Homo sapiens: one gene and its partners. The protein of the gene in region 1 purifies or fractionates together with the protein of each later gene. This does not show direct contact. Each region holds a gene or a part of one and is shown in the gene's direction. Other genes may lie near its edges. The genes, in order: TMEM51, HSPA12A, FAM114A2, SLC39A11, CUEDC1, FNDC3A and PDCD4.

The links.
Region 2: the proteins of TMEM51 (region 1) and HSPA12A purify together in Homo sapiens (affinity purification with mass spectrometry; 3 studies listed by BioGRID and IntAct, with this or other methods). This does not show direct contact.
Region 3: the proteins of TMEM51 (region 1) and FAM114A2 purify together in Homo sapiens (affinity purification with mass spectrometry; 3 studies listed by BioGRID and IntAct, with this or other methods). This does not show direct contact.
Region 4: the proteins of TMEM51 (region 1) and SLC39A11 purify together in Homo sapiens (affinity purification with mass spectrometry; 3 studies listed by BioGRID and IntAct, with this or other methods). This does not show direct contact.
Region 5: the proteins of TMEM51 (region 1) and CUEDC1 purify together in Homo sapiens (affinity purification with mass spectrometry; 3 studies listed by BioGRID and IntAct, with this or other methods). This does not show direct contact.
Region 6: the proteins of TMEM51 (region 1) and FNDC3A purify together in Homo sapiens (affinity purification with mass spectrometry; 3 studies listed by BioGRID and IntAct, with this or other methods). This does not show direct contact.
Region 7: the proteins of TMEM51 (region 1) and PDCD4 purify together in Homo sapiens (affinity purification with mass spectrometry; 3 studies listed by BioGRID and IntAct, with this or other methods). This does not show direct contact.

What each region holds. Positions count from the first base shown.
Region 1 is NC_000001.11:15,160,247-15,163,746, forward strand, and holds part of TMEM51 (transmembrane protein 51), read left to right. Parts: intron 1-3,500.
Region 2 is NC_000010.11:116,673,630-116,676,566, reverse strand, and holds part of HSPA12A (heat shock 70 kDa protein 12A), read left to right. Parts: intron 1-64; coding exon 65-168; intron 169-1,148; coding exon 1,149-1,786; 3' UTR 1,787-2,937. UniProt on the Homo sapiens protein: Adapter protein for SORL1, but not SORT1. Delays SORL1 internalization and affects SORL1 subcellular localization.
Region 3 is NC_000005.10:153,989,648-153,993,910, reverse strand, and holds the end of FAM114A2 (protein FAM114A2), read left to right. Parts: intron 1-800; coding exon 801-935; 3' UTR 936-3,763; downstream 3,764-4,263.
Region 4 is NC_000017.11:72,844,689-72,848,188, reverse strand, and holds part of SLC39A11 (zinc transporter ZIP11), read left to right. Parts: intron 1-3,500. UniProt on the Homo sapiens protein: Zinc importer that regulates cytosolic zinc concentrations either via zinc influx from the extracellular compartment or efflux from intracellular organelles such as Golgi apparatus. May transport copper ions as well.
Region 5 is NC_000017.11:57,861,413-57,864,912, reverse strand, and holds part of CUEDC1 (CUE domain-containing protein 1), read left to right. Parts: intron 1-1,627; 3' UTR 1,628-3,500.
Region 6 is NC_000013.11:49,132,912-49,136,411, forward strand, and holds part of FNDC3A (fibronectin type-III domain-containing protein 3A), read left to right. Parts: intron 1-3,420; coding exon 3,421-3,500. UniProt on the Homo sapiens protein: Mediates spermatid-Sertoli adhesion during spermatogenesis.
Region 7 is NC_000010.11:110,874,928-110,878,427, forward strand, and holds part of PDCD4 (programmed cell death protein 4), read left to right. Parts: intron 1-1,038; 5' UTR 1,039-1,100; coding exon 1,101-1,143; intron 1,144-1,742; exon of another isoform or gene 1,743-1,816; coding exon of another isoform or gene 1,817-1,826; intron 1,827-3,500. UniProt on the Homo sapiens protein: Inhibits translation initiation and cap-dependent translation. May excert its function by hindering the interaction between EIF4A1 and EIF4G. Inhibits the helicase activity of EIF4A. Modulates the activation of JUN kinase.

The sequences.
Region 1 (3,500 bases):
TTTGGTGAGGGAAAATGACTTTATTTTATTTTATTTATTTCTTTTGAGACAGAGTGTCACTCTGTTGCCCAGGCTGGAGTGCAGTGGTGCAATCTTGGCTCACTGCAACCTCTGCCTCCTGGATTCAAGCAATTCTCTTGCCTCAGCCTCCTGAGTAGCTGGGATTACAGGTGCATGCCACCACGCCCGGCCAATTTTTGTATTTTTAATAGAGATAGGGTTTCACCATGTTGGCCAAGCTGGTCTTGAACTCCTGACCTCAAGTGATCCACCTGCCTCAGCCTCTCAAAGTGCTAGGATTACAGGCGTGAGCCACCACACCCAGCAAGAACATGATTTTAAAAAACAAAACAAACACTCAAACTTTCTTAAGTTACCATAAGAGGCCTCACATACAGCTTCCTTAAAACTGCCTGCAATTTGGAGAGAAGCAGTTAGGTACTGGAACTGCCTGTGGGTAATTATTGTTTTCAAACAGTGACAGATGCAAATTCTCTTCTTTTGGGGGAAATTGCCTGTAGCTAAACACCGGCGCCATCACTTTAAACAAATCTCCTGATACATATGGTATGCCAGGCGCTGAGCCCAGGAACGAGGGAGAGTCAGCCCCCGCCCCCCACCCCGATGGAGCTGATCCCCCACGGGAGGCAGCAGGGATTGTACCTTAACAACATGTGAATAAAGATGAGGAAGCACAGCCCGTGAAGGAGGAGGCTTAACCCAAACTTGGAGAGTCAGGAAGGATTTTCAGAAAGAGTGCAGTCTGAGCTGAAATGGGGAGCGGGGAGGGCAGGTGCAGCCGCCACCGCCAAAGGTCTTCCTGGTGGAGGCAACTGCCTGTGCAAAGGCCTCAAGGTGTAAAAGAGCTTCGTTAACACAGGCCAATACTGAGTGTAGAAACGCTGCACTCAGGGCAGATGCTGAAGGCAGAGGTGGAAAAAGTATTTTATATAGTTTCTTCTTAAAAGTCATTTTGGGGGCTGGGCATGGTGGCTCATACCTGTAATCCCAGCACTTTGGGAGGCCAAAGCAGGTGGATTGCTTGAGGTCAGGAGTTCACGACTAGCCTGGCCAACATGGTGAAACCCCATCTCTACTAAAAATAGAAAAATTACCCGGTATGGTGGCAGGTGCCTGTAATCCCAGCTACTCAGGAGGCTGACCACAGGAATCGCTTGAACCTGGAAAGCAGAGGTTGCAGTGAGCCGAGATCGTGCCACTGAACTCCAGCCTGGGCAACAGAGTGAGACTCATCTCAAAAAAACAAAAGTCATTTTTCTCAAAAAATTAAAATCGAATAACCATAGGATCCAGCAGTTTCACTTCTGGGTGCATACTTGTCTTAGTCCATTTGTGTTGCTGTAAAGAAATACCTGAGATTGGGTAATTTATAAAGAAAAGAGATTTATTGGCCGGGCGCAGTGGCTCACGCCGGTAATCCCAGCACTTTGGGAAACCGAGGCAGGCAGATCACGAGATCGAGACCATCCTGGCCAACATGGTGAAACCCAGTCTTTACTAAAAATACAAAAATTAGCCAGGCATGGTGGCGGGCACCTGTAGTCCCAGCTACTCAGGAGGCTGAGGCAGAAGAATGGCTTGAACCCGGGAGGCGGAGGTTGCAGTGAGCCGAGATGGAGCCACTGCACTCCAGCCTAGCGACAGAGCAAGACTCCATCTCAAAAAAAGAGAGAAAGAGGTTTATTTAGCCCATGGCATCTCAGATGCATCAGCATCTGCTTCTAGTGAGGGCCTCGGGCAGAAGGACAGCAGGCGTCATGTGGTGAGAGAGAAGAGGAGAGAAGGAGTGGGGAGCAGACTCTTTAACAACCAGATCTTTGGGCACCAAGCCATTCAAGAGGGATCCACTCCCAACAACCAAACACCCACTAGGCCCCACCTCCAACATTGGGGATCAAATTTCTCTTCTTTTTTTGAGACAGTCTTACTCTGTTGCCCAGACTGGAGTGCAGTGGCACAATCTTGGCTCACTGCAAACTCTGCCTCCTGGGTTCATGCGATTCTCATGCCTCAGCTTCCCAAGTAGCTGGGATTACAGGCATGTGCCACCATGTCCAGCTAATTTTTGTATTTTTAGTAGAGATGGGGTTTCACCATGTTGGCCAAGCTGGTCTTGAACTCCTGGCCTCGAGTGATCCACATGCCTCGGCCTCCCAAATTGCTGGGATTACAGGCATGGCCACCGCATCCAGCCTGGGGATCAAATTTCAACATGAGATTTGGAGAGGACCAATATCCAAACTATATCAATGCTCAAAAGAATTGAAAACAGGTTTTTGAAGAGATATTTGTACACCCATGTTTATATGAGCATTACTCATAATAGCTAAAATATGAAAACAACCCAAGTATCCATCAAAGGATGAATGAATAAACAAAATGTGGTCTATCCATACAGTGGAATATTATTCAGCCTCCATGTGGAAGGAAATTCTGACACCATGCTGCAACATGGACGAACCTTGAGGACATCATGCTAAGTGAAATAAGCCAGTCACAAAAAGACAGATACTATATGATTCTACTTGTATGAGGAATCTAGACATCATAGAAATGGAAAGTAGAATGTTGGTTGCCAGGGGCTGGGGGAAGAGGAATGGGGAGTTAGGGTTTAATGGGTAAGGGGTTTCAGTTTTGTAAAATGAAAGCGTTCTGTGAATGCATGATGGTGATGGTTGCACAGCAGTATGAATGTACTTAATGCCACTGAACTGTTCATGGAAAAATGGTTAAGATAGTCAACTTTATGTTATGTGCATTTTATCACACTAAAAAGTTGGTGGGTGGGGGAGTCATTTTGGAAACAAGACTCAGATAGTCATTTGGCCATATCATTGCGTTCTCTCTACAGACCAGGTGTTCTTCCAGGCTTTGGGGGGAAACGGTGCCTAAGACAGGCTCAGTTCCTGCCCTCTTGGAGCTTACACCTTATTAGGCAGCAGGGAGGAGTCAGTCAAGTAGGAAACCAACAAGTAAAATAACAAATCAATAACATGTCAAATGCACTGATCTGAAATCTTTGCCCCTTCCCTATGCTGGCAGGATCAAGCCAAAGCTAAGCTCTTTAACTTTCAACACTATAAAGCCCGGACTTCTTAGAGTCAGCCTCTGTTAATCTTTTCAGACCTATTACTGCTGCCTTACCCCAACTTCAACTGCATCAGTCACAAGGAACTACTTTCCACCCCCACCTACCTCGTACCCCTGCTCAAAGCCAGGAACTTTGGCGGCTTTTTTCCTTCCTGTTCTTTCTGCTTTTCTTTCTAGACTGCCCAGAGGCTTTAGAAAACACCATAATTTCAATTCTAGAAGTTTATCCTAAGAAAACAGTTAATGAGTATAAGGAGTTAGTTTCGAGACTGTTATTTTTTGTAATAATAGCAACAAAATTAGAAAGCCATTTTGTTTTTAATCTGTCCAGAGATGGTCCTAGCCACGACCCTTTAAATAAATTTTTGTTTAATTTTGGAATAATTTTA
Region 2 (2,937 bases), on another chromosome or scaffold:
CAGATAAGCCTGGGTATCGTGTAGACCCTCACTGCCTGCTCTTCTCCATGCTATGCTCCTGCAGTGTGGATTTTGTGAAGTGGTCCTCGCAGGGGATGCTGCGGATGAGTCCAGATGCCATGAACGCCCTTTTTAAGCCGACCATCGATAGCATCATTGAGCATCTCCGTAAGTATCAGCCAGGCTCGGCCACTCGGCGAGGCAGAGCTGAGAAAGGGGATGGGCTTTCCCAGCATCACCAGCTGGTGCCTGTGGAGTCAGGTTGGCCTGGATCTGGGAGCCACAGGCAAGGGCCCTGCAGGACTGGGCAGGGCTTGGGCATGTATGGGAGAGGTTACTGGGCATAGGCTCTGGATCCCTCTCCTCGTACTGCAAAGCTGCTGAGAGCTTGTCTCACCCAAGCTTTCCGTTTGGCCTCAAAAGTCAGAGAGCTGGTAATGACAAAGAGGAAGAATTAAATAAACAAACAAAACTTTAAAACAACAAAAAAGATCAGAGAGCTGGAAGCTCTGAGGCAATGTTACCTGAGAGTGGCAGGCCCTAGGAAATGCATATTCTTTGCTTTACTGGGACATGTTAGACATCCTCACCCTGCTAGGGGAGAAGGAACTGTTGTGTGAATCAAAGGAAGTTCTGCAAGCAAATGGAATCTGGCTATGTCATTTTCCTGCTACATTGGTGGCAGTACCCAGGGACACATAGCAAACTCACCAGGACCTCTTTCAGTATCCTGTCCCCCGCCTACCAAATCAGACTCTCTAGGAGTGGAATGGGATTTTTATGAAAATCAGAGAATTCTATTTATAACAACCTGCCTTGACTTACCCAACAGAACCACAGGTTTGGAGAGCTTTAGGAGTATTCATTTATGCAAACCAAATTCTACTTAAAATTATCACCATGTATCTGTTAAAATGCATTTCTACTTAGCAGCAGCTCTGGCTTTTATTCCGGAACATATTGGTGTGCAAACTCCCTTTCTTTAAAAGACCAGTTCTGCAAAGATTCTGTTCAAGGAGCTCAGAGTAAGCCTGCCCTCCCAGTGGCCCAAGTGGCTTTATCCGTTCCCCACAGATGCAGGCAGCCCAGTTCCCCCTTCCTTGCTGGCTTTTGGTGACAGGACATTCTCCCTGCCTCTTCCCTTCCAGGGGACCTGTTTCAGAAGCCCGAGGTGTCCACCGTCAAGTTCCTCTTTCTGGTGGGCGGCTTTGCCGAGGCGCCCCTGCTGCAGCAGGCGGTGCAGGCTGCTTTTGGGGACCAGTGCCGGATCATCATCCCCCAGGACGTGGGCCTCACCATCCTCAAGGGTGCCGTCCTCTTTGGCCTGGACCCCGCGGTCATCAAGGTGCGCCGGTCGCCGCTCACCTACGGGGTAGGCGTGCTGAACCGCTACGTGGAGGGCAAGCACCCGCCTGAGAAGCTGCTGGTGAAGGATGGCACTCGGTGGTGCACCGACGTCTTTGACAAGTTCATCTCTGCCGACCAGTCTGTGGCTCTGGGTGAGCTGGTCAAGCGTAGCTACACCCCGGCCAAGCCCTCCCAGCTGGTCATTGTCATCAACATCTACAGCTCTGAGCACGACAACGTCAGCTTCATCACTGATCCCGGGGTGAAGAAGTGTGGCACGCTCCGCCTGGATCTCACAGGGACCAGTGGCACTGCGGTGCCCGCCCGGAGGGAGATCCAGACCCTTATGCAGTTCGGGGACACCGAGATCAAAGCCACAGCCATTGATATAGCCACTTCGAAGAGTGTCAAAGTTGGGATCGACTTCTTAAATTACTAACCCTCCCGCCCCGCTGCCTGTCCCCTTGGACTCAACTTATCTGCATCTGCTGACCTCAACCTTGACTGTTCTTTCCCTAACCTTGACCCTCACCATTGCCCATGTGAATTTCAGCAGGGAAGATGAGAACAATCAGGGCTAGAAATAATTAGTGACTTTTGAGGGCACACTGGAGTCAGAAAAACAGAAATTAAGATTAAGGTTTAGGCATAGAAAATTAAAGGATCCTGGAGGAGCAGCTAGTTTTCATAGGTACAAAAGTGGTGAAATGGCCACGGAGAAGGGAATCAGTACATTTCTGCAGCAGTGGTTGCGCTGCTTTGAACAGATCTCCGTTATGTAGAATTTAGGATGCCCTATTGCTGTCTTTCTAGATTTAAAATGAGATCTTTGAACCAGGAGGAGATCTTCATCTGAGACTTGTCTTTCTAAATTTTTTGGATGGCCATCAATATAAAATGCCACCCATCTGCAGTTAATTTCTTTTCCTCATCATGTGATTAAAAGTGGTGATTCAGTGGGAACTGGGAATGTTTTTAGCTGGTGGTAGAAGGCTGCCTACACTGGGCACTGTTTTAGATTCTCATATCATTTAAACAGCAAGGAGGTTCAGGGAAGAATAACCGTAGCCTTGGGTAATCCACTAGGGCTTTTGTGAGTAGGAGAGCTGATACCTCACATTCTTAGCAGGTGAAAACTTGCCATGATGGAAACAGATAGTGAAGAGTTACTGACGTATCCCAAATTATATGCTGTGACATAAATTCCCAGCATGCCCAGCCCTGATTTCTGAGTTCATAAGTAATTCTAGTGAACCTTAGTAGGAATTCTGGGTAAGAAAATGAGGTTGCCATTGGTCTTGTTTGCATCACCAAGACCAGACATCCAGAAGAGCCCCTCACCTTGAAAAGCAGACAGATTTTAAATTAACCCCCTCCTTCCCACTCACCTTCATCTCCCTAAGAGTTTTGGCCATTTAATTCCACATTTTGAAAGGAATACATTGGTGAAATTTGGGAAGAGAATCTGTGCTATGCAATGTTTCATTAAAATCTTCAGTTTTTCAAGTCTCTCTAAAAATAATTTGTAGATCTATACTTGATGTATTAAGTCAGTTTTTTTTCACAGCGGGCCTGTGGCTCGCCTGCATC
Region 3 (4,263 bases), on another chromosome or scaffold:
TTGTGTGGGAAATTGAGTATTAAATGTCACACTGAATTTTAAATAGTACTTGCCATTGATAAATTTTAAAAAGGTAATATCACTTGATATGGGCTCCCTATTATTTTTAGTGGATTTTTTTTTTGGATACAGATTTGAAACACTCTTGTCTTCGAAATTATACATTTTTATCTTAATGAGCTCTCTGTTGATATTCTTTTGAAAGGTGAGGGCTTTTCAGTATAAATGAAGTCCAGCAAACTGAGGGTAATGATTCTCTAACACTTCTGAAAAATGTTGTTCAAGATAGAAATATATCTATACTGTCATCTTTGAAAGCAGTATATGTGTGAAAGATGTTTATGTGTGTGAGCAGTTATTGTGCTCACTGATCGCATTGAGTCCATGGAAAAAGAGCTATCATAATGGGCTAGAAATTCTATAGGTGTAGGATTTATAGCCTTCTGAAAGCCTCTTTCAGTAATTGACCACAATATTGTGACAGAATCTACCCTACTCAATAAAGGAATAAATAAGCTTTGAATGCCAAGTCTGACCATGTTGCCAAAGAAAAGCTACCATGTCTGATGGGCAAGTTGTACAAAATGCTGACATTCTCTTTTGGTGCTCATATCATCTTAAGAGCTAAATTCTTCTCCCTATAATAGAGTTTACCAAAATGGCCAAGTCACTGCTCTTACTTGCCAGGCTATGAATTCAGTTAGATTACAAAAATTAATCTGTTCCCCTGTTGCCTTACAGTATATCTTCTCTTTTAAATAACTAATATTTTCTTTTTCTTGTTTTTTCAATCCTGGCAGGCATCAAACAGTGCCTCCTACATCCAGGACGCCTTTCAGCTACTCTTACCTGTGCTAGAGATCTCTCTCATTGAGAACAAGATTGAATCACACAGACATGAGCTGCAGGGCCAGAAACCTTTGTTAGAACATTGAAGAATGGAGACGTTTTGACCTGGGACTTGTGACGGCCAAGGAATGCCACCTTATTCTGGCTACTCCTGCAGAAATGAAGGAGTGGGGTTATTTTAGTATATAAAAATTCAGGCAGGAGAGATGGTTTAAAGAGGAAGATTGTTGCCTTCAGTGTTTGATTGAAGTATTCAGGTTCTCACAGTATTCTTTCCAGTTGTTGTAATTCATAAATTATTTGAAAAGAAACTTTTGTAGAAAGTCCAAGAATAATAACTCTAGATAAAGATTAGTGGGACACTCAGGCAAAAATGTTGGTCTTTCTTTGACATGTTGCAAAATGTTATCAATTTTGTCATGGATATAATTTGCAGCCCATGGATATAACTGGTTGATAAGCCAGAGAAAAATAATTTAGTGTTCTAAAATTCATGGCATGTGTGGTTTATTAATGCCATGTACTTTCTCCTTTCTGGAATAAAATCTATGGCTTTAAGAAAACTGAGCATATGTAAACTCTGTGATGATTACCCTTTATCACATGAATTCTTGGAAATAGAAAGTTTCATCTGCTTTTTTAAATTCTTAGTAGATATTTGGCATTGAGGAGAAACTTGTAGACTATTATAGCCATGTGAATTAACTGTAGCAAAGTGCCCTTTTTCTTCAAATTGCTCCCCCTCCCCAGGATGACACACTTCATGTCATAGCTGAACCCTACTCTACTGGATTCAAGGCCAGTAAATGCAATTTAGAGAAGCAGTTTTATGTTTGCAGATATTCTGAGTCTCTTCAGGATGTGTTTCGTGTCTACCATATATGCAGGATAAATTCTTTAACAGCAAACTCCAAAGGAATGTTGAAGCTGTTTTAGCAATGAGGATTTTTTTGTTTGAGTGTTGAAGTGGGCCATAGTCCTTTAGAAATGATGTTCATTTATGATAGGATTTAACTTCTAAGGCATAGTTTATTTTTTCCTCTTTCCTTTTTGTTTGTTTTAATGTATTCTTTAGCATGTTTTTGATATAACTTTTATCCTCCAGATCTTAAGCTTTCTTTTGCTCTCTTCAGCAATTTAAGAGACTATTAAGCTGTCGTCTTCCTAAAAGCTATTTTGGTATCCACTCTTTTTAAAAAAATTCTCCAACTTTGTGGTTTTTTAATGATTAAGGTAATTTGTTAGCTCTGCCCCTCATCTTCTAAAACCTTTGTAATAAAATGTATTAATCATGTTATTTGATCCTTTCATTTACTTTTGTAAACACGAGCCCTAATATCTTACTTAGACCAAAAAAAAAAAAAAAAAATAGCAAAGCAAAGCCATAACATAGATTAGTATAAAGACTGTTTCTACGTAATCTTCTTTGGGGCAGGAGTCAGTTAGTAAGCAAGGAAGAGAAATAAATTTGGTTTAAAAAGGTATACCAACAGCACTACAATGTTACTCTGCCTATATTCTGTCTTAATATGATCAGAAAGTTTTTGAATATTCCTTTTTAAAGACAAATTTCACCCTTTCCAGCTTGAATATTTCTGAAGTTTCAGAAAAACAGTTGCCTTCTGGTTACAAAGGCTGGTGTCACCAGTTCTGAATTGTTGCCTCAAGCTTGGTTGATGTGTCTGAACCTGTATCCCTTGAGGGCAAAGTTTAGAAACTGGTCACTCTGCCTACTGTCTGTTCAGCCTCTTGTACAATGGCAGTTTGGCAGCTTTAAATCCTTAACCTAGAAATGTATTTAAGGTTTTTCTTTCAAGAAATGGGGTATACATATGAAGGAGAGAGTAACAACTCTTTTTATACACCTATTCAGATTTCAGCCCTGAATTTGGCAAATTTTAGATTAGGTCTCACATAAGGTAAATATGACTCACTAACTCTTTTTTTCTCATCTTCCCCACCCCCCCATATATATTTATTTATTTTAATGGAGTTAGGGACCACTAGTGAAATGATGAAAGGCCCAATTCTGAGTAACAATTGTCTACTCTTCACATAAAATATACTGAAAAAGAATTAAGATTCCTTGATCCAGTAGACATAGAGAAACATAAACATTCATGACAGATGAGTAGGTAAATTCAGGGATCACTTTGGAACTTGCTGGATTATGGTGATGGTTTTTGGATAGTATGTGCTTCATTATTTTATTTGGGGTAGTTACAGTGTTTTAGTTTTTTGTTAACAGCTACACTTTTGGTACTATTTTCCTTTTAAATTTTTGGTGTCTAAGATTTACCACTAATTACTAATATATGCCTTTCCAATTCACTTAAAACCTTAATAAGTGAAATGTTCAGGTATTGCTAGGGTAAATGTGTCTTTTCCTACTATTGAGATTTTAAAAGGCTGTGATTAAGAGAGACTTTATTAATTTGATCTGAAAGAAGTAGAAACCTCTATGAAACAATTTTTATTTTCCTTTGCATAATACCTTAGAAATGTGTTAAGGACAAGCTATATTTTCCTTACTTGCTTTTGATAGTTTTTTTTTTTTTTTTTAAGCATAGATATCCAGGTTGGCAGGCCTCTGAAATGTGAAATTGTAATTTTTATAGATGGCATTACTATGAATCTGAAATCAGTGCTAGGTGTACAAATGTGAATTTTTCAATCCTGTAATCAAAGAACAAGATCTTGTGGGTTCCTACTGCTGAAAAAGGATGCTTTCTTTTGTACTTGTTTTTAGTGAAAGACCTTTTTGAGGGAGAGCTATTTTATAGGTAGTTGCTATTGATATCTCCATTTGAGAAATAGACATTTTTCTGTATTTCTAGAGGTGTTCTGAATTTTAAACCTGAATTCTTCAGTTTAGAAAACCCAGAATAAAATTATACCCACAGTGGGCACTCAACAAGTGTGATATTTCACAAATGTCAGAGACTGAGCTGTTTTATTATCTCTTTGTGTGTGTGTGTGTGTGTGTGTGTGTGTGTGATGGAGTTTCACTCTTGTTGCCCAGGCTGGAGTGCAGTGGCGTGATCTCGGCTCACCGCAACCTCTGCCTCCTGGGTTCAAGTGATTGTCCTGCCTCAGCCTCCCGAGTAGCTGGGATTACAGGTGTGTGCCACCACACCTGGCTAATTTTGTATTTTTAGTAGAGACAGGGTTTTTCCATGTTGGTCAGGCTGGTCTGGAACTTCTGACCTCAGATGATGCCACCTGCCTCGGCCTCCCAAAGTGCTGGGATTACAGGCGTGAGCCACTGTGCCTGGCCCTTTTATTATTTCTTAACAACACATGATATCTCTTTTCATAAAAGACTTAAAAAGCATTTGAGAAATGAGAAAGTTCTAAAAATAATAAGCCTCTTAGTTAACATGTCATAAAGGCCTCTGGCAACTGTATGAAGAG
Region 4 (3,500 bases), on another chromosome or scaffold:
TCATCTAAGAAATGGGGATAATGCCACAAGTGGCTTACTTAGAGAATTAAATGAGATGCTAAATATACATACAGCTTTCAGTACAGTGCTTGGGACTTACGAGCGCATTGTTGGCATCGATGATACTCCTGCTGCCTTTTCAGCCATGATTTCCTCGATCTTGAGATCTTAAACATGCTGACCCACCTTTTGTTGTTTGGGAATTCGAGTTTGAGCAATAATCTTCCCCAGGGAGCATCCTTGGGTGATACATTTTCTGAGTCCTTGCAGAGTTCATGGTGCCAATCTGTTACTCTAATACAGGAGCAAGAACTTGGCTGGGCAAAGCTTTCTAGTCATGACATTTTTCTCTACAAAGCTTCTGCAGATGTTGATCCCTTGTCTTCTGGCTTTAGTATTGTGGAAGCAAAAAGCATGGCCAAAGTGAGTCTGTTCCTCTGTATAACTTGATATTGTTTTGCTTGCACAATGAAGACTTTTTTTTGTCGTCTTTAAAGTGTGAAAATTCTAATACATATTATATATTCTAGTATATATTAAATCTGCCGAAAGCACTATGTGTTTAATTACTTTTTAAGCTCAGATATTTCTCTAGATAAGAAGCACATTCCTCTGTTATTTCTATCCTAATCTTAGGAATGTCTATCATACGATCATAGGTAGGCCAGTTTTCCCAACATTTTCATCAGTTTATGTGTCTCCCTCATTCCCCTCTTGACCCTTTTCTTTGAGTTATGAATAAGCTTTTTTTAGTTGGTTTTCCAATTTTTTTTTTTTTTTTTTTTATGAGACAGAGTCTCGCTCTGTCGCCCAGGCTGGAGTGCAGTGGTGCAGTCTCAGCTCACTTCAATCTCCACTTCCCGGTTCAAGCAATTCTCCTGTCTCGGCCTCCCGAGTAGCTGGGATTAAAGATGTGTGCCATCATGCCCAGCTAATTTTTGTATTTTTCGAAGAGACGGGGTTTCACCATGTTGGCCAGGCTGGTCTTAAACTCCCGGCCTCAAGTGATTAGCCCACCTCAGCCTCTCAAAGTGCTGGGATTACGGGCATGAGCCACAGCATCTGACCCTGTTGGTTTTCTAGATCTTGGTATTCAGTATGTCTTGAGATAAAGATGGGGTCTTATATGGACCTCACTGCACAAAGATGGCCAAAGTGGGTTAGCCTTGGTGGAAGACCCTGCTCGTGCCCACCCCGTATCTTAAAGAGGTCATTGAAAGACCCCTTGGTCCCCTGCAGAGGACTACTTAGGAGCCCTGACAGCAACTTGTAGCCTGTTAAGTGCTAATAGTTAGAGAAGAGAGGTTACTTGTTTTTCATTCATAATAGTAGCTGTCTTTCTGCCATTTATGACCCCTTCTTTAGCCAATTGAGGAAGAGTAAAGATCTGCCCAGTGGGTTTAGTGTTAAATAAGGTAACTACACTGAGGTGTATTACGGCAACTATTTCTCTGAAGAACAAAAATGTGGTCTAAGGTCCAGACTTTATAGCAATGGAATGAGTATCCAACTTTCCTCTAATGGACCCTTTTATATACCACACCTGCCACTGTACTTGGGTGATTCATTATGCTCAGCTGGAATTATTTCCTGGCTCATCCCAATGGAAGGCCAGGATGGTTCAGAGTTTACTTTCTCAAATGTTTGTTGACTCCAGTGACAACTTGGAATAAAGCCAGAAACAGGAGGAAGATGTGTGGAATGACAGCAATATTTGATGATCTTAAATGAGCATAAATTAAAATCTTACTTCTTCCCTGACAGGAGACCCTATTCTGTGTCTTTGGAGTTTCCAAGTCTAAGTTCAGCCTTTGTCACTTCTATGGTGATGCAAAAGTATTTTTTCAAATAAGGATTGAGGCCAGGTGCAGTGGCTCATGCCTGTAATCCCAGCACTTTGGGAAGCCAAGGTGGGCGGATCACTTGAGGTCAGGAGTTTGAGACCAGCCTGGCCAACATGGCGAAACCCCGTCTCTACTAAAAATACAAAAATTAGCTGGGAGTGGTGGCACATGCCTGTAATCCCAGCTACTTGGGAGGCTGAGGCAGGAGAATCACTTGAACCCAGGAGGCAGAGGTTGCAGTGAGCCAAGATCATGCTACTGCACTGCAGCCTGGGCGACAAAGCAAGGCTCTGTCTCAAAAAAAAAAAAAAAAAAAAAAAAAAAAAGAGAGAGAGAGAGAGAGATTCATTGGTTTGAAAGATGGATTCTCTTATCTCCACACTCCATCCTGGGTGACACAGCGAGACTCCGTCTCAAAAATAATAGTAAAATAAAAAATAAATTGAAATGAGGATTGAGTGCCTTCCAGGAATCTCAATTGAGTTAGATTTCACCAGAAGCATGGTGGTAATAGTCACTGGTTTCAGTAAACTGGAGGACAGCTGGCTTGACTGGATGGAGAGGTTTGAAGGGACATTTCTTTCCCAGTCTTGTCTTTTATTTATTATATTTGAGTATTGTATTCCATGTACTTGGGTTATATCAGTACTAAAACAGACCAAGATCTCTGGCCTTCTATAACCAATATTATAGCAAGGTGAGATAGTCGATGAACATCATCATAATAAATGAATTTTATATTGTGTTAGAAGGTGGTTAGTGATTTAAAAAAAGAAAAAGTTCAACAGGGCAGAGGAGACGGTAGAGTGTTAGAGGAAGAAATTGCCATTTTAAATAGAGTAGGTAGGGAGGGGCTCCTTGAGATGTCCTTGAATTTGAGTCAGTCATGCAGATCTCTGGGAAACAGTGAGTGTTTTAGGCAGAGGGAACAGCCAGTGCAAAGGCCCTGAGGCAGGAGCATGTCTGGCCCCCACAAGGAGTAGCCAAGAGTCCACTGTGGCCACAGCAGGGTGAGCAGCAGGGAGAGAAGTACAAGGTGAGGGCAGGGATGTCAGCCCCTCCTTTAGATGGAACTTGGAGGCATAAGAATGTTTGTTTTTGCTCTGTGTGTGATGAGCCATTGCAGAGTTTTGAAGAGGGTGTGTATGACTTGACTTGAGCTTTGAAAGTTTGTTTCTCTTTAGATACTGAATTGAGATGGGACTTAGGAGAGGTAAGGATGGAAGCAGGGAGGCCTATGTAGAGGCCACTGCAGAATCCAGATCAAAGATGATAGTGGTGCAGACCAAGGTGGTCGTGCTGGATGTGGTGAGAAGGGATCCCTTCCTGGGTCCCGATTGAAGGTGGAGCCAATGGGATTTGCCGATGGATTGGATGTGGGATATGAGAGAAAGCGAGGAGCCAGGAGGGACCCGGAGGTTTCAGGGCTGCCCAGCTGCAGGGATGGAATTGCCATCAACTGAGACGAGGAAGGCTGCAGCTCCAGGGGCTTTAGGGGGACTATCAGGAATTTGTTTTTTGATTGTGAGGTTTGATTGCCATTAGACATTCAAATGGAGATACTGACTAGACAGCTGGATACATGAGTTTGGAGTTGGCTTGCAAAGTCTAGCTAGAGTTATAGATTTCTGAATCATTGGCCCATGAATGTTTTTT
Region 5 (3,500 bases), on another chromosome or scaffold:
GCTAATTTGTTTTTGTATTTTTAGTAGAGATGGATTTTTGCCATGTGGCCAGGCTGGTTTCGAACATCTGACCCCAGGTGACCTGCCCGCCTGGACCTCCCAAAGTGCTAGGATTACAGGTGTGAGCCACCGTACCTGCACCTCATCATTTATTTCTGTCCTAGGACTTCCAGCTTGTCCCCTTCCAGCTCCTTCTGCAAGTTGACATCCTCCTCCTCCTCCCCTTAAACACCAAGGGTCCTTGAGTCTTCCCTGCCATCCTCCTTCATCCACTGCAGGCTGACAGCCCCTCCCATCACTCGGATTGACTCGGAGGTCACCCAGCAGCTCAGGGCCTTAGCATCTTCTGCATTCTTATGGTGCTCTTCCACACGCACTCCCCTGATCTCTCCTGAAGCTGCCCTCCCTTGGCTCCTGTGACCCCAGGAAGCCAGGTTCTCCTTCCTCTCTCCTGGCTCCTGTTGCTCCGCCCACTCCCTAAATACTGGCTCTCCTTGTTGCTCTGCCCTTGACCCTCTTCGAAGTCTTCTCACTGCCCACTCTGGCAGTGCCTCCGCCCTCTTTTATAGCACCAGCAACACTTCTGCGCATCTGGCTCCTACATCTGAATCTCCATCGCAGTTAGGCTTCCAGAGCTGCTTCGTGTCCCCAGCTGCACCCAAGATTTTCTTTTCAGCCTTGGATAGCAACTCAGTCTCTCCTCCTGACTGCCCCCTTTCATTCTCTTTTCTATTCCTTCCATTACCACCCTGATAGATGCTCATCACCTAGGTCACAGCCCTGTTCTCTTCACTGCCCCTACCTACTCTGATTATCCCACCACCAAAACACCACTTTAGTTCCATTTTTCCTGTGCTCTTTGAATGAATCTTTTTTTTTCTTTTTCTTTTCTTTCTTTTTTTTTTTTTTTTTGAGATGGAGTCTCGCTCTGTTGCCCAGGCTAGAGTGCAGTGGTGCAATCTCCACTCACTGCAACCTCCCCTTCTCAAGTTCAAGCCATTCTCCTGCCTCAGCCTCCCGAGTAGCTGGGATTACAGGCACGTGCCACCCCGCCCGGCTAATTTTTGTATTTTTAGTAGAGACGGGGTTTCACCATGCTGGTTAGGCTGGTCTTAAACCCCTGACCTCGGCCCGCCTCAGCCTCCCAAAGTGCTGAGATTACAGGCGTGAGCCACTGCGCCTGGCCTGAATGAGTCTTCTGAGTAAAGTCTTAGGAACTCTTCAGCCTGGTGTCTGAGTCCTACCAAGTTCTGCCCCCAGTTTACTTTTCTCCACCTACAGGTCTTTGTGGCCTAGCTCCCCTGAGCTATGACGTATTAGAATGGGCCAGGTACCCTCCCACGTTGAAGCCCTCCCCTACAGCTGCTTCACCCCGGGATTCCATTCCTTCACTCCATCTCCTGCTGCCAGAGTCCCTGCAGCTGGGCAAGCTGGAATGGTTCTAGGAATTTGAATGGGGGGATGACCCAGGCAGAGTTCTACGGTTGACCTCGAGTCCCTGGAAAAAGGAGAGGGCTTACGTCTTTAGTAACTTCTCCCAAAACTGTCTCTCCAGGAACCAGTGACCAGGAAAGACCATTGGGCTCCTTTGAAAAAGATTCCTCCCATCCCTTTTTTCCCCTACCAGATGCCAGCAGCTCTTCCTTGCCAGAGATGATCTGACCCGGTGGGGGCAGCTGGAAAGCAACACTGGCCCCCAGCTGAAGGGCCCAGCTGCAGCCAGACAGATGGTGCTTGAGAACCGAGGCCCGGTGATCCTCCAGCCACAGTCCAGCCCAACCACTGCCACTTTCCATGGGACTTAGAACTTCGGAGTTGCTGCCTTGCAATTGGAGGAAGGACCTGGGGCCCCTATAGGCAGCAGCCAATTACAGCCCCTTTTGTAGCCAGGCGTTCCTATGGTCAAAGAGTGGAAATGCAGGAACCAACCTCCCTTTAAAAAAAAAAAAATCCAGAAAGCAGATAAAAGTTGGAATATGGAAAAGGGCAAGATGACCCCCACCAGAGGCTCTTTGGCCTGAAGGTGGAGTCTCTGCCTCCGTCCGTTCTCTATCTCTCCTGTCACAGACTCTGCCTGACCCCCTTTCCTCAGCTCCCTTCTGGTCCCCCTTCCTCAGCTCCCTCCGGGCACTTGTGCCCTTCCCTTCCATGTCCTCCTGTATCTCAGCCTTCCCCCGGGGCTGCTGGCCCAGCACACGAGCCCTGCACCCAGCCTGGGTGGGAGGTCCCTGGCCAGTCCCCCAGGAACTCTGAGGAGCTATGGGCTACTGCAAAGCATCTGCCGACTGCCCTGCCCCGTCTGGCCTCATCAGGCTGCTGCTGTTAGGGATGGGCTCACTCCCAGCAGCTCCCGGTCACCCAGCAGGGATGGGGAGGGTGGCCACCCTGGAGCTGGAGGACTCTGGGGAGGCAGGGTCTTTAATTTGGCAGCAGACAAAAGCCAGTTCTGGAGTCACACCACAGTAGGGGCTCACAGGGGCTCTGACTCCCCAGCTGGACTGGAAGCCCTGCTGTCCGAGGGTGGGCAGCGGTGGGTCCTGGAGTGACCCCTTTGAGCAGGTGCAGGGCTAAAGAGCAAGGCGGAAAGGCCGCCAGCCTGGGTGAGCGCCTAGGGCATAAGGGCTTGCTGGGTGCCCCTGAGAAGGGCGGGTGATCTGAGGAGGAGAACTCTGATTCTAGGAACGCTTACACGGCACTGACCACTGCCACGGGGAGGGAGGCTGCCCAGCCCGTGGCCCCGCCCTGGACATGGGAGCGCGCAGACCTTCCGGAGAGCCGGGAAGCCTGGGCAGGCACGAGGCTTCGGCGCGGCTCTGGGAGGTTGGGAGTGGCATCCGATCCTTGGCCGGGCCCTGGTGGCCTCCGTGGCCCCAAGATCACAAGGGCGTAGCGAAGGCGAGCCGGCGATCGCACCTCGTCCCGCCCACCCTGCCCGGACTCGCAACGCCGAGCTTGGGGAGGGCCGGGACGCGCAGCCGCCGCCGAGCGTGACCAAGTTTGGAAACGCGCGCGGGGCCGGGACGCTGGCTCGGGGGGCCCTGCCGAGGAGCGGTCGCCCCCTCCGCTGCTCCCCGCGCCAGGCCTGGGGCCCTGGAGGGAGGGGGGGGGGTCTCCGAGGAGTGCCTCGGTACCCCAGCTCGAGTTCTCGACGGGTCTCTGAGCCTTCCCCGCGCCAGGACCCGGCGCACTGTGGGGGAAGCCCCAGCCCCATGTCTGTTGAGTGTTGCTTTGTTATTTTTTTTCCTCCTATGTGTGGGTTTTTTCTTGGAGCTGTTTCATAGGAATTCCTGTAATAAACAGTTGGTGTTCTCTTGGTGCTCTGATGTGGCCAGCGGCGTGGGCTGGACCCTCCTGCTCCCTCCTCCCTCCCGGCCTGGGGCAGGGTTTGTCCCCAGGAGCCCCGCGTCGCATCCCTAGGGTACCCCTGCCTTGCCTGGCCCATTCACCCGCGGCGCTCTCCGACTGCACTCTCGAGGTGACACCTGCGGCACCGCTGCACC
Region 6 (3,500 bases), on another chromosome or scaffold:
TCCCTTATTTGACTATCAACTCCCTAAGAACTGAATCTATTTTAATCACTATTGTTTCCCTGCACTTAGCATTGCCTGTCACTTATGCTCAGTACATTTGCAGAAGAAATAACTTCAAATACAAAATTGAAATTACACAACACAGCCTGTAAATAGTGGATATATTGTACACATCATATGTATTTGTCAAACTTATTTCTATTGCCCAAGTAATGCAAATTGGTTCAGTAGCTCTGGGTAGTGCTTGAGATTCTGCATTTCTAACAAGCCCCTAGGAGATGTTCATGCTGTGCTCCAAGGAACATACTTTTGAGTACCAAAAGTTTATACTGCAGATTAGTCTCATCCTATTTTTGTTTACTGCTAATTATGACTTAGTTTTAAAAATATTAATTTTTTCTTATAATCTGAGAAAACTATAAGAAAAAGCTAGTATTACAATTATTACTATTTTGCATTGTTAAAACCCCTTGTTATTCTGTAGGGATATGCATTAGAATACATGGATGTGATCTACATTGATATGAAGGAAAGTGAAGGGCACAAATCCACAAATTAGCTACCCAGTGGTAAAAGGGAGGAGTCATGTTGTACTTGAGGTTATAAGCCAGAGATTCTACCACTAAATGCTAATTATTGACAGTACTGGTTTTCTAACCAATGGCTATACCTCCGTGATGTCCTTTCCATGCACAATCCATATGGATTCTCAAAGTGGAATCTGATCCAGCATTTCACTGTTAGCAGTACCATTAGTGAGCCTGAACCTTGCTAGGCACTATGCTCACACATGTATTATCTCACTTAATTTTCAATAAAATTCTGCAAAATTCAAATGAGGAAACCGAGGCTCAGAAATGTTAAGTAATTTCTGCAAGGCCACACTGCTAGTTAATTGCTCAGAATTTTAACCCTCTCAGATCTATTCAATGATTAAGTTCCTTCTCTTTCTACTATAATATATTCTTTTTTCTCTTCCATGGTAGCTTTATTATTTTGAATAATAGATAAAGCATTTTAAAGTATGTACTAATTGATCTAATTGATTGCAGTTGCTATTTTTCTTAACTTTTTGTCGAGATATAATTTAGGTAACAGTTCATCATTTTACACTTCAGTGGTTTTTAATATATTTACTTTATTGTGCAACATATGCAACTCAATGTTTTCTATATTCAGTATGTACTGTATTAAGTACCACTGTCTAATTCCAGAACATTTCTATCATCCCAAAAAAGAAACTGTGCATATTAACAGTCAGTCCCAACTCTCTGTTCCTTCACATCCCATGATCTACTTTCTGTCTGTATGGGTTTGCCTATTCTAGACTTCATATAAATATACATATAAGTATTTCATATAAAAATTTCATTAAAATGTTCATACAGTATGTAGACTTTTGTGTCTAGTTTTTTTTCACTTAATGTCATGTTTTCAAAGTTCATGTTCTCACATATAATAGTACTTCGTTCCTTTTTATGGCTGCAATAATATTGCATTCTGTTGATTACATTTTATCACTCATTAGCTGATGGACCTTTGGGTTGTTTTCACTTTTTGTCTATGAACAATACTGCTGTGACCATTTGTGTAAAAGTTTTTGTGTTGACATATTTTCATTTCTTCCGGGTATGTGCCTCAGAGTGGAATTGCTGGGTCATATGTTAATTCTATATTACTTTTCCACAGTGACTACACCATTTTATATTCCTACCAGCAATGTATGAGGGTTCCAATTTCTTTGCCAAAACTTGATATCGTCTGTCTTTTGATTGTAGGCATCCTGAATAAATTTCTCTCTCATTATGGTTTTGATTTGCTTTTCCCTAATGCTACTAATGTTGATCATCTTTTCATGTGCTTATTGGCCATTTGTATATTTTCTTTTCCTTTTTTTTTTTTTTTTTTTTTTTGAGATGGAGTTTCACTCTTTTTTTTTTTTTTTTTTTTTTTTTGAGACAGAGTCTCGCTCTGTCGCCCAGGCTGGAGTGCAGTGGCATGATCTCGGCTCACTGCAACCTCTGCCCTCTGCCTCCCAGGTTCAAATGATTCTCCTGCCTCAGCCTCGCGAATAGCTGGGATTACAGGTGCGCGCCACCACGCCCGGCTAATTTTTTGTATTTTTAGTAGAGATGGGATTTCACCATCTTGGCCAGGCCGGTCTTGAACTCCTGACCTTGTGATCCACCTGCCTCACCCTCCCAAAGTGCTGGGATTACAGGCGTGAGCCACTGCGCCCAGCCCCATTCATATATTTTCTTTGGAGAAATGTCTATTTGAATTCTTCACCCATTTTTTAAATGGGTGGGATATTTGTCTTTTTATTGTTGAAAGGTAAGAGTATATATATTCTGGATACAAGTTCCTTATCAGATATATGATTTCCTCCCTTGTTGTTTTTTCACTTTCCTTGTGGTATCCTTTAGTGCAGAAAAGTTTTTAATTCTGATGAAATCTAATTTTTTCTTTGATTGCTTGTGTTTTTGGTGTCTCGTCTAAGAAACTATTGCCAAATCCAAGGTCATAGAGACGTGTTTTCTTCTAAGAGTTCTATAGTTTAATCTCTTACATTTGGGTCATTGATTCATTTGAATTAATTTTTGTATATGGTGTGAGGTAGAGGTCCACGTTCATTCTAATGTTATTGTACATATCCTTATAATACTCATTTCAAAAATACTGTACTAATTTTCTTAAGGCACTGCTAAATTAAAACTTTTTACTGAGGCTTTTAAAAAATATTTTTCTCATCACAAATTTTAAATTTAAAAAACTCTGGGGACAATTGAATTAATATTTATTGAGCATAATGACTTAATTATGTTCCTATGTGACTTTTATTAGAATGAGTGGATTCTTCTAAATCACAACCTTGAGTTTATAGTATCTGAAGATACATTATATGTAGATTGTTATTGTTAAACAGTCTAAATCATTTCTTTTGGCTAACTTTTTTTCAGTGATGATTGCTTTTTTGAGTTATAAGGGAATTTAGGCAGGCAGTGGTTTTCTTTTTACCTATTTTATGTGTTTAAGGTTCAAAAAGATGTGAAAAGTAATAGTTACTAAAGAGTAAAAGAAAAAGAACTGTGGACTGCTCAGCTCCAGTCTCATTCCTCACCTACAATAATCATAAGTTACCACCAAGCTGTTTCTATGGAGATTAATAATTAGTTGAGAACAGAAGGAAATAAATCTCTCTGTAAATTTACTTGAGAGAGAGATATATATAATTAGAATAAATCACAAAGCTTGGTTCTGATAGTTTATGGAGACACAAAGGTTGCTTTGTTATGCAAAATTCTTTTAAATATTTTATAAAAGTTTTATATGATAGATTTATTTTCTGTTCTTTTTTCATGGCATAAACTTATTTGGAGAAAGTGATCTTCTTAACATTTTGTTTTTATTGCCTCCTAGATGCTCACTCTACACATGGAAGGTCCAACTTTAGAGATGAACGATCTAGTAAAACATATGAACGTTTGCAGAAAAAATTG
Region 7 (3,500 bases), on another chromosome or scaffold:
GGCATTTTCACTAATTTGTGCATTTTATATCTCTGAAGAGCACACTGCTAGCAACCTGATTGTAAATGACCAGAAGGACTTATATCCAACCTATGTGACTTAAACATACACTTAAGTACTCTAAACCACTATTTAAAAAATACTTCTAGAGAGATTCTGAAATCTTAATTTGGTTGCACTTTCTGGTAATATATTTTTTGAAAACTATTTTGATATTTCTTTCATATAACATTATTGGATCTGTATCACTAAGTTAATTGTCTAAAAGGTAACTGATTTCATCAAACCTTCCAGTATTAATAATTTTTAAGCCATTTTGAAACTGAGGCCTAAAATACTGAAATGCTTATGTCGTTGTACTTACTCCTTTCTGAAATGATCAGATTTTTAAAAAATGGATTTCTCATATAAATAATATTATCAAAAAAGGATTTCTCATATAAATAATATTATCAAAAAAGCTGATTTTAAAAGTTTCTCCCAAAGTCTTATTCTAGTAATTATAGAGACCTAGGTAATGAGTGGCAGATATATCTGCCTTTCAGATATGCCGTAATGTGAAAAATAACACAGTCATGTGATATTCTTTATTAACTAAAACTGTGTTGTTTTTATTTTGGAGTAGTTCTCATAATTCATTGGTAGGGAACTATCCAGTATTTATATTCCTATGTATGTATATCAGATTAATTTTGAGGCTTGGTATTCCTAAAAGATTTGGATGTGTGTATTTCTTTAACTTGACGTAAACATGTATCACAAACATATCTTTTAATTCCAATTAAAGGGGTGCTTTGGCACATGCTGAAATCTGGGATTTTTTTTTTTGACTTTGATAAATTTATCAAAAAGATTGGAACCAAATGTTAATTAGGGTAAGTTGTCTTTGAAAGTAAAGTGAACTGTTTTATTTAATGGAATTGTGTGTTTTTTGTTGTTGTCGTTTGTTTTTACAGTGTGCTTAAGTAAGTTTAATTCAGCTTAATTACATCAGTTTAAAAGATCTTGAAGCTTTCTTTTTTTCTTTTAAAAAAACAGATTCTGAAGGAAGATTTCCATTAGGTAATTTGTTTAATCAGTGCAAGCGAAATTAAGGGAAAATGGATGTAGAAAATGAGCAGATACTGAATGTAAACCCTGCAGGTAAGTAAGGATATCCTTTTTTCTTTTTTTCTTCGTTTTGAGACAGGATCTTGCTCTGTCACCCAGGCTGGAGTGCAGTGGTGTGATCATGGCTCACTGCAGTTTTGACTTTCCTGGGCTTAAGAGATCCTCCCCTATCTCAGCCTCCTCAGCAGCTGGGACAACAGGTGTGTGCCACCACACCAGGCTAATTTTTTATTTTTTGTAGAGATAGGATTTCACTATGTTGCCTAGGCTGAAATATCTTGAAGCTTGACTATGTTGTGAGGAAGCTTCAGACCATTCCATATTTTATAAAAACATGATAGAAAAACTATCTTTAAATACTCTTTTATTCATGCTGTAAGAAAACAGGCTATATTATTTTTAAAGTCAAGTTTGTGATTTTTATTTTCATGGAAATTCATTACATGTCCTATTTTTCTGCCTATCCTTTCACATTCCACATATTCCTATTCTCTGTTATATAGTACAGAATAGAGAAGAATAGTGAGCCTGCTTATTTTCACATGGGCTAGTTAGTGATTTCTGTAATATAAACTTACTGGTATCTTTGGTATCTTTCCTAACAAATAATTTTTATATTCTAAATTACCTAGGGTATTTTCCCTAATTCTCCATGGTGCTTCAATAGCATGTTATTATCATAAAAATGAACAGTTTTGTGGAATAGATGACCAAATGTGAGTAACTCAAGATAATTTAAAATGTATTTATAGTTTTAAAAATAATCTCCCAAAAAGTTAATTAGAATTGTGTAATATCTGAATAGTGAGAACAGTTCATATTGGTATACTTTGGATAATTCTTTGTCTTATAATTTTATTAATATTGAAAGCTATTTTCTGTCATTTTAAGTGTATTTCGTAACTAAATACTACATCTTTCTTTCCTCAGTGACTTAACTCACTATTGTTTACAATGTACATAGTTTTCTTTGATCTGAACAAACATGTTGAATTTGAAGCTTCTTTACCATTGTTTATTTACAGATCTTTTTAAAGTATGGTAAAAAATTGAAAAAAATTTATGTAATTAATGATCATTTCTGTGCTGCTGTATACAATAGCTGTATGAGTATGCTTTAGGGTTATAAATGGATAATATGTACCTACTTAATTGAGATGGGGATGGTAATACAGTTTAGAATATATTTTACATATAGGTAATTGCTTCTTTTCTGCACTGTCCAGTATGGTGACCACTAGCTACATGTGGTTATTACTCCTGGGCTCAAGTGATCCTCCCTCTTCAGCCTCCTCAGTAGCTGGATTACAGGCGTGTGCACCACTGTGCTTAGCCACATGTGTTTGTTGAGTACTTGAAATGTGGCTACTCTGAGTTGAGATGAAGGTCAACTATCTCAATAATTTGTTATATTGCTTGCATGTTGAGATGATATGGTTATATTAGATTAAATAAAATATATTTAAATTAATTTCACCTGTTTTTACTTTTTAATGTGGCTACTGGAAAATTTAAAATTTCTTATATGGCTTGCATTCTATTTCTATTAGAAATAGAAACACAGCTTTAAAATGTGTACTTTTTGTTTCCTAACTACAATAAGACCTAGTTCTAACCCTGTTCTTGGTGCTTGTGTCCAGCACTGCTTTAAAATAAAAGACTTGTTCTTCAATATTTGAATAGGCCTAAGATAGACCCTCTTTGTAGTAAATTCTTCACATAGCAAATAGTCCAAGTCACACTCTTACTCTTTTACTTGGAGGAAGTAGGTTATTCTGACCTTCAGTTTTTTCATGTATAAAATTGGGATATAAATACCCTCTGTATAGATTTATAATTAGGATTTAGTGAGATATTGTATATGTGTGTTAAGTCTGTGAAGCACATACTAGGTATGTAATACATGAAAGTGTGGTAATGTTATTCTAATTATGCCACTCATTGGACACCAGTAATTGAAAATGTGATTTTCTGGTGCTGTGGTCATATACAATTGGAGTGGTTACTATTGAGATATCAGAATTCAGAAAGAGGGAATTAGTACACAGTAGGAAACAATTTTGAAGTCAATCACATTCTGTACTCAGCTTATCATTTTAATTTTGGTTTTCTTAAAGTCAGCTCAATAGGGGTTATGGAACTCCAACAGTTAGGTGAGTATGAGTAACAAAATATAAAGCAATTAATACAAACATGGGTTAAAAATGATAAGGTCAAATATATAAATTATACTGAGAGAATGTTTACTGCTGCAGAGACACAAACATACTTGAAAGGATGTTAAAATTGTTGAAGAAAAGAAAACTCGATTATGGGAAATAGATGTATTTAAATTGAATACTCCAAGGGACAGTTTAAGACATTTTATTATAGTTCTGACTCCTGTGTCT